Linked DNA regions of Homo sapiens. Each later gene encodes a partner of the first gene's protein in a complex. Each region holds a gene or a part of one and is shown on either strand. Other genes may lie near its edges.

Region 1 (7,022 bases):
AGAAAGGAAGAAAGGAAGGAGGGCGGGAGGGAGGGAAGGAAACAGAAAGGCAGGGAGGGAAAGAAAAGAAAAAAGAAGTATTAAGTAATGGAATAGAACATAATCTACAGATGCTGTCGTGTCTGGCTGGCTGTGGTGGCTCATGCCTGTCATCCCAACACTTTGGGAGGCTGAGGCGGGTGGATCACTTGAGGCCAGGAGCTCGAGACCAGCCTGGCCAACATGGTGAAACCCTGACTCTACTAAAAATACAAAATTTAGCAGGCCATGTTGGCACACACCTGAAACTCAGCCATAAGATGAGTTTTCACCACAGCTGGACCCTAACCAACAATTATCATATCAAAGTTAAAAAAAAAAAAGGGAACAAATAAAAAACTTAGCATTCACTAGAACAGGCAGATTTGGAGAGATGGATTCATTGGTGTTGGGCAAAGGGAGTGGCACACAAAAAAATACTTTATATTTCTACCAGATCTATTATTTAGTTACTTACACATGCAAAACAGCACTTATATTCCAGTTAGGTACTTAGCTAGTACTTAACAGCCTTTCATTATGTTCATCTACACATTGAAGATAAACTCCAAAACATATGCTGTTTTGATCAAGAAATTAAAAAATATTTATATAAGCAAGTCCTATAGCTCAATAATAAGACAAATCACCAATAAAAAGTGAGCAGAAGGCTGGATGTGGTGGCTCATGCCTGTAATCCCAGCACTTTGGGAGGTCAAGGCGGGTGGATCACAAGGTCAGGAGTTCGAGACCAGCCTGACCAACATTGTGAAACCCCATCTCTACTAAAAATACAAAATTAGCCAGGCGTGGTGGCGTCTGCCTGCAATCTCAGCTACTCAGGAAGCTGAGGCAGGAGAATTGCTTAAACCCAGGAGGCAGAGGTTGCAGTGGGCCAAAATCGTGCCACTGCACTCCAACCTGGGAGACAGCGAGACTCCGTCTCAAAAAAAAAAAGAGCAGAAATTTGAACAGCTATGTCACCAGAAAAGATACAGGAATGGCAAATGAGCACACAAAAGGTTGCTCCATATCATTAGTCATTAGGGAAATGCAGATGAAAAATACAATGAGATACTATTAAACACCACTACCATGGCTAAAATGAAAAAAGACTGATAATACAACTTGTTGGTGAGGACGTGAAGCAACTGGAATCCTCATACACTGCTGGTAGGAATGCAAAGTGATATAGCCACTGTGGAAGGCAGTTTGCCAGTTTTTCAAAAATAAAGCTGAATATATACTTACCACAGAACCTGGCATACAATTTCTAATTATTTATCCAAGAGAATTGAAAACCTATGTCTCCACAAAGATCTGTACCCAAATGTTCATATTTATTTATAATAGCCAAAAGTGAAAACAACACACATATCAATGGATTGGCTAATGGATACAAAATGTAGTGTGTATAGATATATACACACACAATGGAATACTATTCAGCAACAAAAAGCCATGAATAGTTTCTATACATTCACACCACATCTCAAGACCATTAAAAGACTATGCTGGTTGAGTGCAGTGGCTCACGCCTGTAATCCCAGCACTTTGGGAGGCTGAGGCAGGCAGATCACTTGAGATCAGGAGTTCGAGACCAGCCTGGCCAACATGGTGAAACCTCATCTCTACAAAAATACAAAAATTAGCTGGGCATGGTGGTGTGCACTTGTAGTCTCAGCTGCTTGGAGGCTGAGGCAGGAGAATCGCTTGAACCTAGCAGGGCAGAGATTGCAGGGAGGTAGAGATTGCAGTGATCTGAGAATGCGCCACTGCACTCCAGCCTGGGGAACAGAGCGAGACTCTGCCTCATTAATAATAATAGTAATAATAAAATGAAACCACCATACTAAGTGAAAAAAATAAGACGCAAATAACTGCATATGATTCCACTTAAGATGTTCTGCTGGCCAGTTGCAGAACAGGAACTCCCTGTACTAGCTTTACAATTTTTTTTTTTTTTTGAGACAGAGTCTCGCTCTGTCGCCCAGGCTGGAGTGTAATGATGCAATCTCGGCTCACTGCAACCTCCACCTTCTGGGCTCAAGCGATTCTCCTGCCTCAGCCTCTTAAGTAGCTGGGATTACAGGCACATGCCACCGCGCCGAGCTAATTTTTGTATTTTTAGTAGAGACAGAGTTTCACCATGTTGCCTAGGCTCGTCTTGAACTCCTGACCTCAGGTGATCCACCCGCCTTGGCCTCCCAAAGTGCTGGGATTACAGGCGTGAGCCACCGCGCCCAGCCTACAATTTTTAAAATAAATCTAAAACTATTCTAGGGCAGGCGTGATGGCTCATGCCTGAAATTCCAACACTTTTGGAGGCTGAGGCAGGTGGATCTCTTGGGCCCAGTTGTTCGAGACCAGCCTGGACAACATGGTGAGATCCCATCTCTACAAAAGAAATACAAAAATTAGTTGGGCATGGTGGCGTGTGCTTCTAGTCCCAGCTACCAGGGAGGCTGAGGTGAGAAGACAGATGGAGCCTGCACGATCAAGGCTGCAGGAGCAAGCTGTGACTGCGCCATTGCACTCCAGCCTGGGTGACAGAGTGAGACCCTGTTTCAAACAAACCAAAAACAAACAAACTATTCTTTCTTTTTTTTCTTTCTTAAAAAACAAACTATTCTAAAAAATAGAGTTTATTTTTTAAAAAGATTAATCATTGGAAATACGAACCACTTTATTTACTGTCACATCTCTACAGGAAAAGAAAGCTATAAAAATGTAGCAATCTTTCCCCAGAAAACTGGATCTCAATTTGCTGCAAAGGCTAAAACTAGAATGTAGTCTGTCACTAGGTGGAAATGGGAAAACATTACTGAAATTGTATGGCAATAAAAAATTTAAGGAACGGCTGGGTGCGGTGGCTCACGCCTGCAATCACAGCACTTTGGGAGGCCGAGACAGGCGGATCACGAGGTCAGGAGATCAAGACCATCCTGGGTAACACAGTGAAACCCCGTCTCTACTAAAAATACAAAAAATTAGCTGGGCATGGTGGCGGGCACCTGTAGTCCCAGCTACTCAGGAGGCTGAGGCAGGAGAATGGCGTGAACCCAGGAGGCGGAGCTTGCAGTGAGCCGAGACGGTGCCACTGAACTCCAGCCTGGGCGACAGAGCAAGACTCTGTCTCAAAAAAAAAAAAAAAAAAAAAATTTAAGGAACAAGTTCTTAAACTTAGAGAGACTGAGATCAGAATACAAAAGTTCCAAACTATTAAATTTTTTCATCTACATAAGGTGTCCCTTTGCAGAAACAGCTTCTTTGTCTTAGGGGCAAATTCAGTGTCTTTGATAGTTTCTCTTGAATAATAATTTTATTAACCAGCAAGGCTAAGTAAGCCTTTGGAGGCAGATGGCACTACAGATTTTTATTTTTTAATTTTATTTATTTGTATTTATTATTTGTATTTATTATTATTTTTTGAGACGGAATCTCGCTCTGCTGGGATTACAGACGTGAGCCACCGTGCCCAGTCTATTTTTTTTATTTTTTTTTGAGATGGAGTCTCACTCTGTTGCCAGGCTGGAGTGCGTTGGTGCAATAACAGCTCACTGCAACCTCTGCCCCAGCTAATTTTTGTATTTTTAGTAGAGACAGGGTTTCACCATCTTGGCCAGGCTGGTCTGGAACTCCTAACCTCAGGTAATTCACCCACCTTGGCCTCCCAAAGTGCTGGGATTACAGGCGTAAGCCACCGGGCCTGGCCTAGATTTTTTTTTTTTTTTTTTTTTTGAGAAGGAGTCTCACTCTGTCACCCAGGCTGGAGTGCAGTGGTGCTATCTCAGCTCACTGCAATCTCCACCTCCTGGGTTCAAGCGATTCTCTTGCCTCCACCCCCCCTGAGTAGCTGGGACTATGCTCGCCACCAAGCCGGGTTAATTTCTGTATTTTTAGTAGAGGCGGGGTTTCACCATGTTGGCCAGGATGGTCTCCATCTCCTGACCTCGTGATCCACCTGCCTCGGCCTCCCAAAGTGCTGGGATTACAGGCGTGAGCTACCACGCCTGGCCCCTGGCCTATATTTTTAAATATTTCATCCTATTCCTTTTTTGATTCATAGTGTAATTGAAACCTGAATGATAGGGGTGAACCTATCCCTGCAAAGAGCTCTAGTAACACACCTTTGGGTCATTCTGGTGATCACCAATTTCATCAACATTTCAATTAAAATCAATTCTGTGACTAGGTACACAGCCTGATCTCTCAGTTAGGATCTATAAAGCACATCTCTAATTTATACCCTCCAACTTCTCTGAGGTATTTTCATCTGTCATTAGTTTGAGCTTCTGGGCACTACACACAGAAAGAACCTTCCTAACAGGAACCTGTGACTCTGAATTCTAATTTAAAATAAAATTATAACATTAGTATTTCCTAGTGTTGCTTAATTAAGAGAATCAGATCAGCTGGGTGCAGTAGCTCACACCTGTAATCCCAGCACTTTGGGAGGCCAAGGCGAGTGGATCACCTGAGGACAGGGGTTCGAGACCAGCCTAACATGCAGAAACCCCGTCTCTACTAAAAATACAAAATTAGCCGGGCATGGTGGTGGATGCCTGTAATCCCAGCTACTCGGGAGGCTGAAGCAGGAGAATCGCTTGAACCCAGGAGGCAGAGGTTGCAATGAGCTGAGATCGTGCCATTGCACTCCAGTCTGAGCAACAAGAGTGAAATTCTGTCTCAAAAAAAAAATTAGATCGTATGCACTGGAGGTAATGGTAACAAAAATCTAAACAGGATTAGTTTTTTTTTTTTTGAGACAGAGTCTCGCGCTGTCGCCCAGGCTGGAGTGCAGTGGCGCGATCTTGGCTCACTGCAAGCTCCATCCCCCAGGTTCACGCCATTCTCCTGCCTCAGCCTCCCGAGTACCTGGGATCACAGGTGCCCACCACCATGCCCAGCTAATTTTTTGTGTTTTCAGTAGAGACAGGGTTTCACCATAAACAGGATTAGTTTTTATGAGACCCAAAGGAAAATGCTGGCTCACAGGATTTATAACTCTGGTTTAATTTTATTTCATTTTATTTTGTTTTTTGAGAAAGGGTCCCACTCTGCCGACCAGGCATGATCATAGCTCACTGCACTTCGACCTCCCAGGCTCAAGGGATCCTTTGGCCCCAGCCTCCCTAGTAGCTGGGACTACGGGCACATGCCACCATGCCTGGCTAATTTTTTATATTTTCAGTGGAGACAAGATCTTTTTTTTTTTTTTTGAAACGGAGTCTTGCTCTGTTGCCAGGCTGGAGTGCAGTGGTGCAATCTCAGCTCACTGCAACCTCCGCCTCCCGGGTTCAAGCGATTCTCCTGCCTCAGCCTCCCGCGTAGCTGGGACTACAGGTGCAAGCCACCACGCCCAGCTAATTTTTGCATTTCAGTAGAGACAGGTTTCACCATGTTGGCCAGGATGATCTCGATCTCTTGACCTTGTGATCCACCCGCTTCGGCCTCCCAAAGTGCTGGGATTACAGGCGTGAGCCACTACGCCCAGCCTACAAGATCTTGCTATGTTTCCCAGGCTGGCCTTGAACTCCTGACTTGAAGTAATCCCCCTTCCTCAGCCTCCCAAAGGGTTGAGATTACAGACATGAGCCACCGTGCCCAGTGAGAACGCTGACTTGGAAGAGTAAAAGCAATCTCCTAACAGGCTAGAGCCCTATCTTGACTGGTTCTGTACTGTGTCAGCCCAAAGTTTAATACTGTACTGTATTTAGTGCCTGCTCATATCATCCAATAAAAATAAGACTTTTTAGTCTATTTTGAATCAAATTATTCGGGTAGGTGAGTTAGAGAATAAAACACACTAAAGGTACTGAATTCCAACTACCCATTAAGTAACTCATGACTTTAGGGTGTAGTGTACTCAAGTCTCAACTGATGATTGACTGATAGACTAAGGAGTAGGAAAGAATCCAATATGTACACAGTTTGGACATAAAACAAAACAAAGAAAAAGCTGGGGACTTTCCAGAATGGAGAAGCACAATTTTTCTTTTTTTAACCTTTAACCCTTCCCCTCAATCCCAACCTATCTAATTATCTTCACTTTTCTCCACAAATTGTTTTCTCTTTTCTCTTTAGTTTATTCTATGTAGAAATGGAATTAGTGTGTTTTTAGTGTTGCTACCTCAAATCTTTTCTGGGACGCTACTAGTGAACAAAATAGAAATAGTGAACAAAGTGGAAACTGTTTTTGAGACAGGGTCTCCCTTTGTCGCCCAGGCTAGAGTACAGTGGTGCCATCTCAGCTCACTGCAACCTCCGCCTTCCAGGTTCAAGGGATTCTCGTTCCTCAGCCTCCCAAGTAGCTGGGATGACAGGTGTGGGATGCCCACGCCCAGCTAATTGTAGAAACGGGGTTTCACCGTGTTGGACAGGCTGGTCCCAAACTCCTGGCTTCAAGTGATCAATCCCTCGGCCTGCTCCCAAAGTGCTGGGATTACAGCTGTGAGCCACAACGTGGGGGGCCCAAAGTGAAACTTTTTAAACTTAATCTAAGACCAGAAAAAGATATACTTAATGACATGAATTGTTACATGTTTCATATAAACAGCAAATCAAAGGGAAGGAACTGTTGCCTACAGAGTAATGAAGCCAGGTTTCAGACCCTAGGAATTAAAAATAGACAAAATTAATATTTTGAATCGGTTTCTTATTTTGTTTTGAGACAGGGTCTTGCTCTGTTGCCCAGGCTGGAATGCAGTGGCTTGATCTCGGCTCACTGCAACCTCTGCCTCCTGGGCTCAAGCAATCCTCCCTACTCAGCCTCCTGAGTAGTTGGGACTACAGGCCCACACCACCAGGCCTGGCTAATTTTTGTAATGTTTTTGTAGAGACAGAGTTTTGCCATGTTGCCCAGGCTGGTCTCACACTTCTGAACTCAAGTGATTCGCCCACCTCGGCCTCCCAAAATACTGGGATTACAGGCATGAGCCACAGTGTCCAGACTTAAATTGGTTGTTTGAAGGTATCATCCAAAGGCAAATATATAAGAAACA
Region 2 (7,964 bases), on another chromosome or scaffold:
AATGTCATTTTATACATCTAAAAAACATTATGCTGAGCAAAAGAAGCCAGATACAAAAGAGAACATACTGAATTATTCTATTTATATGAAGTTCTACAATAGGCAAAACTAATATGCAAATATAGGCAAAACAGAATAGTGGCTGCCTGGGGAGAAAGAGAGGAGAGGTTTGACTGGGAAGAGGCATGAGAAAACTTTCTGAGGTGTTGGAAAGCTCCATCTGTATCTTGATGGTGTGTGGATTATATGGGTGTATGCCTGTGTCAAAACACATGGAACTATATACTTGAGATCTGTGCATTTCACTGTATATAAGTGAAATAAATACAAACAGAGTTAAAATAATGCCATTCTAATTCCTTCTGTATAAGTCTTATCAACAGGAGATACATGTTAATAGACTTGTCTTAAGAAGGTCTATAAGATCCTCCACGATCTGGCCCCTTACCTTCTTTTCTAGCCTTCTCTGTTACCACACTTTTGTCACCTTCTCTTTTCAGTCCTTCACCAGCACTGACCTTTCAGTGTACCAATGGCGTTTGTACTCTTCTCATATTCCTGCGCCAGGACTTTTGCACATGCTGTTATCACTCCCTAGAATGTTTCTCCTTCTCTTCTTAATGGGAGACTGGTTAACTCCCATTCTTCTTTTAGTTCTACTCTTCTGTCTGTTTCTCAGGGAAACCCTCCCATGTCTCACTTTATTACACACGTCCATGGAAACTTTGTCCAGCTGCTGTGTATGCCTGTGCAGCTTGTTCATCTAAACAAGGGTTCCCAGCTGAGGTGACAACTAAAACTAAAATCAAATTTGTGCTCCACTCACAAAGCCTTGCACACGGAGCAGGGTTGTATCAATCTGGAAAAGGGGGTGCCTTTTCTAATTTACCAAAGTCATTGTTTGCTTGCCAAGCTTTACCTACTCTGGGCTCTTTCTGCTATGGCCTTTTAAAAAATAGCACAAAGATACCATATGGGCTAGCAGCAGCCCTGACCTTGTACTTCCCCTTCATACCACTTACCACGGTAATTTCACATTTATTTGGTTAATGCTTGTTTCTCCTACTTGTCAATAAGCATGATGACAGCAGGAAATTGTCTGGTTTTGCTTATTGTCAAGTTTCCTCAGCACCTGGAACAGTGTTGGGCACACAGTAGGTACTCAGTAAATATATATTAAATCTATTCGTTATTTTTCTTTTTTTTTTTTTTAAGACAGAGTTTCACTCTTGTCACCCAGGCTGGAGTGCAATGGTGTGATCTCAGCTCACTGCAAACCTCAACCTCCCGGTTTCAAGCTATTCTCTCACCTCAGCCTCCCGAGTAGCAGGGATTACAGGCTCCAGCCACCACGTCAGGCTAATTTTTGTATTTTTAGTAGAGACGGGGTTTCGCCATGTTAGCCAGACTAGTCTCGAACTCTTGACCTCAGGTGATCCACCTGCCTCGGCCTCTCAAAGTGCTGGGATTACAGGCATGAACCACCACGCCCGGCCCCATTCGTTATTTCTTAACGCTGGATGAATATTAGGCTGTTTGAAGGTAGAGACTGTGTCTTATTTTCTTTTTTATTGTCCCCTCCTCCCCATTGCCCCTGGAATTATCCTACTGCTTTGCATGTAAATGGCATTCAGTAAATTCTTCCTGATTGATTTGAAAACGTTCAAATAAGCCATATGATGTTCTGTTCATAGAAAACCAGATCTGCAAGCATATGATTACACATTGCATGAATGATGATGAACAGCTGCTATTTATGAAGCAGAAGAGACAAAAATGTTGAATGAATGAGAAATAGACTCCAGTTGAAATGGGAAGGATTTAATTTAGCTTTTGAAACTCATTTCCTGATATGAAGCTTACAAGATACCAGGAGACAATGCCAAGGAACGCTGTGAATTTTCTTTTTCTATATAAGTAAATGATCTTGGAAAGTTCCAAGATGGATCAACCACTTACTTGAAGGCTAAGGGGTATTTCTTACTGAATTCTCAACAGCCAAGTATGAGATAGATATTTTAAAGTAAGTTTTTATTTTGGAATACTTTTACAGAAAATTTACTAAGAACAAAGATAGCATAGAGAGTTCCTGTATTCCCCTCATCCAGTTTCCCTCATTATTAACATCTTACATTACCATGTTACATTGGTCAAAATTAAGTAAAGACTGAAATCCGTACATTACTATAAACTATGCTATAGATTCTTTGTTTGTTTTCCCAGTTGTATCTTCTTTCTGTCCCAAGTGAGATAGCTTTTTAAAGTTCTTTGATACTTTATAAACAATTCTGTGGTCTAAAGACCAAGCTCTGTGCATAGAATTACATAAATTTAGAGCTGCCTGGGTCCCTCATCTTGAGGTAAAAGTGCTTTGGCTTTCCAATCAATTGAACACAATCTCTAGTACTGCCACTTGAACAGCTGTGTGTCTTTGGGCATACTGTTTACTTATCCTAAGTCTTAGTTTCCTCATTTGTAAAATGTGGGTAGTAAGACCTCTCCAACTGTGATGGTTCCTGAGATCTTTCACAGTAGGAGAATGCAGTGTTGAGAAACGTACAAATTTTTCTTTTTTAGAGAAGTAGGTCTCCTTATGCAGCGCAGCCTGGCTTTGATATCCCGGGCTCAAGCAATCTTCCTGCCTTAGTCTCTTGAGTAGCTGGAACTACAGGTACACATCAATGCACTCAGCAAAACTTATTTTTAATAGGTAATTAGACTTTTATGGTTATTAAATTAATACCACAAAAGTAGTACTCTGCATGGAACACCTATGACATTTTACATATCTTAAATTAGTAACAAAGACTCTCCTCTGAGCCCTCTTCTCCATCTTCCTGTCTAGCTTGCCTGGCTCAGCTGTAGCAAGAATTCTGCATCAGTTTAGAGAAAAACCCATACCCTGGATATCTGATCACCCCGGCCTTTTTTAGCACAAATTCTGTTAAGTTGGTGTAGCAAAAGTTTCCCCATTCTTGATGTCTCTTCTTAGTAATTTTCCAACCACCAACCCCTCCAACTTTGCTCCTTGACTATACATCCCCACTCCTTGCTGTAATTTGGAGTTGAGCCTGATCTCTCTCCTATTGTGATAGTCTTGACAGCTATCAAAATAGTCCTGAATTAAGTGTTCCTTACTATTTTAACAAGTGTCAGAATATTTTTCCTTTAATGTAGTGACAATAACGTAGTAATATAAACTAATTTCCATTTATCACCCCTGATTCATCAGAAACATTTTAAAAATAACCCCTTCAAGTTTTAATAAGCCTCTTTAAACTATTTTTGCTTTGTTACAGATAATATGAATGCTGTAAGGCATTTTTCTACCATATGTGTCCTTTATCCAAATGTTCAGCACTTTTCTAATTTTATGACTAGACGTTGACTCCCACTTCCCAGCTCCCACTAATCTCTCACACACGGAGTAATTTTAATTTGAAATGCTTTAGTCAATTATCCTTTACTTGTAGAACTATATTTCAGAAACGTCCTTCCCTTTGTTGGGAAAGATGTTCTTAACAAAGGGAAGGATGTTTCTGTCTGCTGATGAAAATGTCATGCCAAAGCACGTCTTACTTTGTCAGGAGCTTACTCTACTCCAGTCTCATCTCTTCTCACCAACTGAGGAGTGCTTAGTAGTGCCTGGAACATTGGAAGTACTGAACAAATGACTGCCGTCATTGAGACCTCAACTTTAATTTTTTTTCGGCTTCTTTATTTCAAAGTCTTCACTGCAGAAACCTCTCATTCTGACCTGCCTTTGCTTTACTTCCTTTTCTCATTCTCAACCAAGAGTTCTCTCTTTATCTACAAAAGAAAGAGTGACTTGCAATCTGCAGATAAGGAAACTGATGTCCTGGTTATAAAGTTATCATGCAGAAATAATTCAAGTATACTAGAATTTTATGGATGGTGCACTCTAGGTGGGTAATGAGGTCTAGAAGAGAAAAGATATACAACATCAAGCAGGTGCCCAAGAAATGGTAGGTCCCTTTCTCCCTTCCTGCCTCCTCATTTTTACAGATGAGGACATTTTTACAGAAGCCCGAATAGATAAGTAGTCACAATCATGTTCTAAGAAAAACAAAAAAAAGGTGGCGGATGCCGTATTTTATTTTTCGTCATCACTCTCCTTTTCCTGCTGCTCATTCAGTTATGGTTTCATGACCCATATAATAATTCCACAAGGCTCACCAATGTTATCTGGCACCTGCTAGAGAATAGATATAGTAACAGAGGCAAATATTTTGGTGAAGTTTAACAGTTGTGTTGCCTTCTAGAATTTCATTGTATCTGATGTGCAAAAACAAGCAAAACATTGTCGGTTAAGTATCACAATCTCATAATGGAGATGAGCACTGATTCTTAGGCCTTGGCGTAGTTCAGGGCCTATCCTTTAGCAGCTAAAAAGAGCACTTTGGCTGTAACTCATTGGAGTCTAGTCTCATAATGTTAGGATATTTCTATTTAAGTCTTAACCACTATTGGTAGCAACTGGAAGGATAATCATTCATTACAATAAATAGTCAACAGAATAAATATCCGACAAGAATTTACGAAGCGTCTAGAGTATAATTCGGTAGCGCTTTGAAATCCACCCTGGGATTCGGAAACCGGGTAGAAAACTACCTGGTTCAGCAAACGAGAATTCAAACAGAGGAGGGGCTTGGAGGAGGCGGGTTTCGACGAACCCAGCGCAAGAGTACGCCACGGCGCCTGCGCATCCCCTGACGGGTACTTTCCATTCGCCAGATGGGGGAAGCCAGGGGGAAGCAGGTTACTGTTTTTGCATTTCTATCTTCAAGGAAGAATTAGGTTATGAATAGTTCCGTGAATAGTCAGGAAGCGCTGTCCTCCAAGTTCAAGATTAAGGAAACGTGGCATGCACAGCTAAAGCAAGAGGTGACGTCTTGTATCTTCCCCCGTTTCCTGGGACATTGGTGGTGTAGCCCATTCCACAGACTTTCGCTCCCTAGCAGCGGGTCGGAGATCGAAGGAACGGGCCAATTGCGGCTGAAACGTCTTTGGAAGGAGGAAGGGGGTGAGGGAGCATCCCTTTGAGTTTCGCCTCTTCTCGAGGCGGTGGTGGGAAGGGAGACATACTTAATACTGCCCTCTTAATCCAACGGACCTTACATCGTGTAGACTGCCGGGAGGGCGGCGGGAAAAGGGCAAGACGGGAGTTGGGGAAGGGAAGGAGCCAGGAAGCCGCGCGGGAGGGCGCGCGCGCGCGCCCCTTTTTCAGCAGTGTGGCGGGGTCGCACGCACGCCCGCCTCGGCGGCTGGGCGCGATTTGCGACAGTGGGGGGGGCGGTGGAGGTGGCGGCGGCAGCGGCAACTTTGCGGCAAGCTCGGGCCGGGCTTGCTTGACGGCGGTGTGGCGGAGGCCCCGCCCCAGGCGGCAGGAACCTGGAGGGAGGCGGAGGAATATGTCCGAGAGGGAAGTGTCGACTGCGCCGGCGGGAACAGACATGCCTGCGGCCAAGAAGCAGAAGCTGAGCAGTGACGAGAACAGCAATCCAGACCTCTCTGGAGACGAGAATGTAAGTGCAGCTTCTGGCAGTTACGAGACTGCGGAGTGAAAGTTTTAAATTCTTTTAAAACGGGGGGCGCGGGGACGAGCGGGCTGCTGTGGGGGGAGGGAGAGGTGTCACTCAGGAAAACGCGGGCGTGCGGGAGAAAATTGAAATTGCCTACGGGGATTTTGATGTGGGGCCGAGAGCAAGCAGGAACTAGGCAAAGGAGAGTGGTTCTAGTGATTGCGTGGGTCTGAGAAGTCTGCCCTGAAATCAGTTTGCATGTGATGGGGAGTGTTTTGGCCTTTGGGGGGATTTAAGGGGAGAGTGCGGGTCTGAGATTCTAGTAGTTTAAAAGGCACGTTAGAGACTTTTCTAAGAAAGTTGGAAGGACGGGGCAGAGTTAGGGACCCTGTTAAAGGAGCGTAAGGGTTGTCACTCTAAGACCCTTGTGGAATTTTCAGGATGGAAAGTGATCTTCGATTTGCGGAGTTTGGGAGACTTTATTAAAGGGGGTTTTGTGTCCGCCTCCGTCCTGTCCGCGGAGACCGGGTGCGCCTGAAGGTCGCCTTTTCTGTAGGAGGAGCCGAATTGAGAGGATCGATTTTTGATTTGGGGGTGGGGAGTGACTACCTTTGAGGAAGTAAGAGTGGGTGATTTCTTCTTTGAACGTTTTTACTTAAGATAAAGGTGAGGGGGGTGGCGACCTGGAAGATTTTGGGCAACAGTGGTATAGGCAGATGTATTTAAGTGTGGGTTCCTGGCTTCGCCAAGTGCGCGATGTTTTGCAATCAGATTTTTTTAAGCTCTGAAATGGGTATTCGTAATCATTCGGTACCAACATTTAACCCAACTGAGTTTTAATTGACTCGCCAGTAAGAGCCGAATTGACATAAATAAGTTTTCAGTTTCATGTTTTAGGTTGATAACCAGTAAGGTCAACGAAGTATCTTGACAATTTATTCAAAGATACTACTCCAAAATGTGATTCTCCTTCTCATGATATATAACAACTTGTGAATATCTTTTAAAAAATCCTTAAAATGTTTCAGAAGAGTGGCGTAAGTTCTTCATTTTCTCAGTTTGGCTAGTTTTAGGAATAAATGTTACATCTTCTACACGCAGTTTCTAAATTCTGTCATAATTCCTAGCTGAAACATATAATGATGTCATGACTAAGATTTTCACGGAAAAGATGGGAAAGGATTCTTTTTGCAGAGACAAGATAGATATTCTTGGGATTGTCAGTTTGTGGGATCTTAGACTTCAAATTTCAGAAAAGCTTGGGTGTTAAGTGTTACTTTTGTATTTTTCACCCGATTGTGCGCCCCAATCTCACTGTACATTGGGATCTAACATTTTTTACCCTCTTCTTTTTATTATTTGAAGACCGTTCATTTTATTTCTGCGTTTTCTTAAATTTCTCTAGGCAGATTAGAGTATTAAGAGCACAGATGCTGGATCCAAGTGATAGGTTAAAATTTCTGTTCTATTAGCTTGACCTCGAGCAAGAGACTGACATAATTGTCTTAGTTTCTTAAAAATGAGGATGGTGGTGTATGGTATTTACCTCATAGAGTATTTGTAAGCATTAAATGAGTTAATATAGCTAAAGTACTAAGAAGAGTGTCTGCCCCATAGTAAGTACTATACACATGTTATTTATTTATAATAATTACTACTACTAATTTTATGATTACATAGAATAATGTTTCTGGCTCTTCCACATACTTAATAATCAGGCAAAATATAATGAAACTGTCAGACCTGTTTAGAATGAAGAAACTTGCAAAGGACAAAATAAAGCTTATTTTCTTCTTGCAGACCCTTACAGGAAAACATATTCTTTGCTGCAATTTTAAAGCTGTTCAAGACCAAATGATTGGATTAGTTTTGTTTTGGTTCCTCCATTTGGATAGCCTTAATTTTGTGTGTGTGCGTGCGCATGCCTTGGAAGCCTTAATCTTGTAGAGTCTTCTCAAAATAACATTTTTAGATGTATGAAATACAGGATATGAGGTTACAAACAAATTCAATTATAAAATTGTACACCATGTTATAAAATATTTCTAAAACAAATTTTAGATGTAGTCCTATACTATATGTACTTTATTAGCACATTAAGTAACAAGATCTAGCAGCGGGTCTGATAGTAGTGATGGGTATAAACACTTTTTCGAAGTGTAATATAAAAATACTTGATTTCCATTGGTGGCAGAGTCACAACTTCAGTAACATTAAGCATGTGTTACCTAGATAATAATAGAAGGAAGTGCTAAATTTTAAAGGTGGCAAAAATTAAGATGCAATTTTTTTTCCCCATTTGAGTTCACAAGCCTTCTGAATTTCATCCATGTACCCCTGACTTAGGGGCAGTAGTAAGGTAAGGGAGTAGAGAACATTGTATAAAAATGAGTTTAGAAAAGATAAGGGCAATAGTTTTAC

Evidence for each region. Proteins that work in one complex are often made in the same cells at the same time.
Region 2: the proteins of EZH1 (region 1) and EED are in contact, whole or in part, in a cryo-EM structure (PDB 7KTP), measured with the Homo sapiens proteins. Residues at the interface, in NP_001982.2 of Homo sapiens: Gly37, Ala38, Lys39, Leu41, Tyr42, Val43, Asn45, Phe46, Lys48, Val49, Gln50, Lys52, Thr53, Gln54, Leu56, Asn57, Glu59, Trp60, Leu63, Arg64, Val65, Gln66, Pro67, Val68, Gln69, Ser70, Met71, Cys83, Thr84, Ile85; in NP_003788.2 of Homo sapiens: Cys84, Val85, Asn86, Ser87, Leu88, Lys89, Glu90, Asp91, Trp103, His104, Ser105, Lys106, Glu107, Val112, Arg120, Leu123, Tyr124, Gln129, Gly130, Glu131, Ile132, Arg133, Leu134, Leu135, Gln136, Ser137, Tyr138, Val139, Asp140, Tyr154.

What each region holds. Positions count from the first base shown.
Region 1 is NC_000017.11:42,735,019-42,742,040, forward strand, and holds part of EZH1 (histone-lysine N-methyltransferase EZH1), read right to left. Parts: intron 1-7,022.
Region 2 is NC_000011.10:86,239,798-86,247,761, forward strand, and holds the start of EED (polycomb protein EED), read left to right. Parts: upstream 1-4,955; 5' UTR 4,956-5,432; coding exon 5,433-5,546; intron 5,547-7,964. UniProt on the Homo sapiens protein: Polycomb group (PcG) protein. Component of the PRC2/EED-EZH2 complex, which methylates 'Lys-9' and 'Lys-27' of histone H3, leading to transcriptional repression of the affected target gene.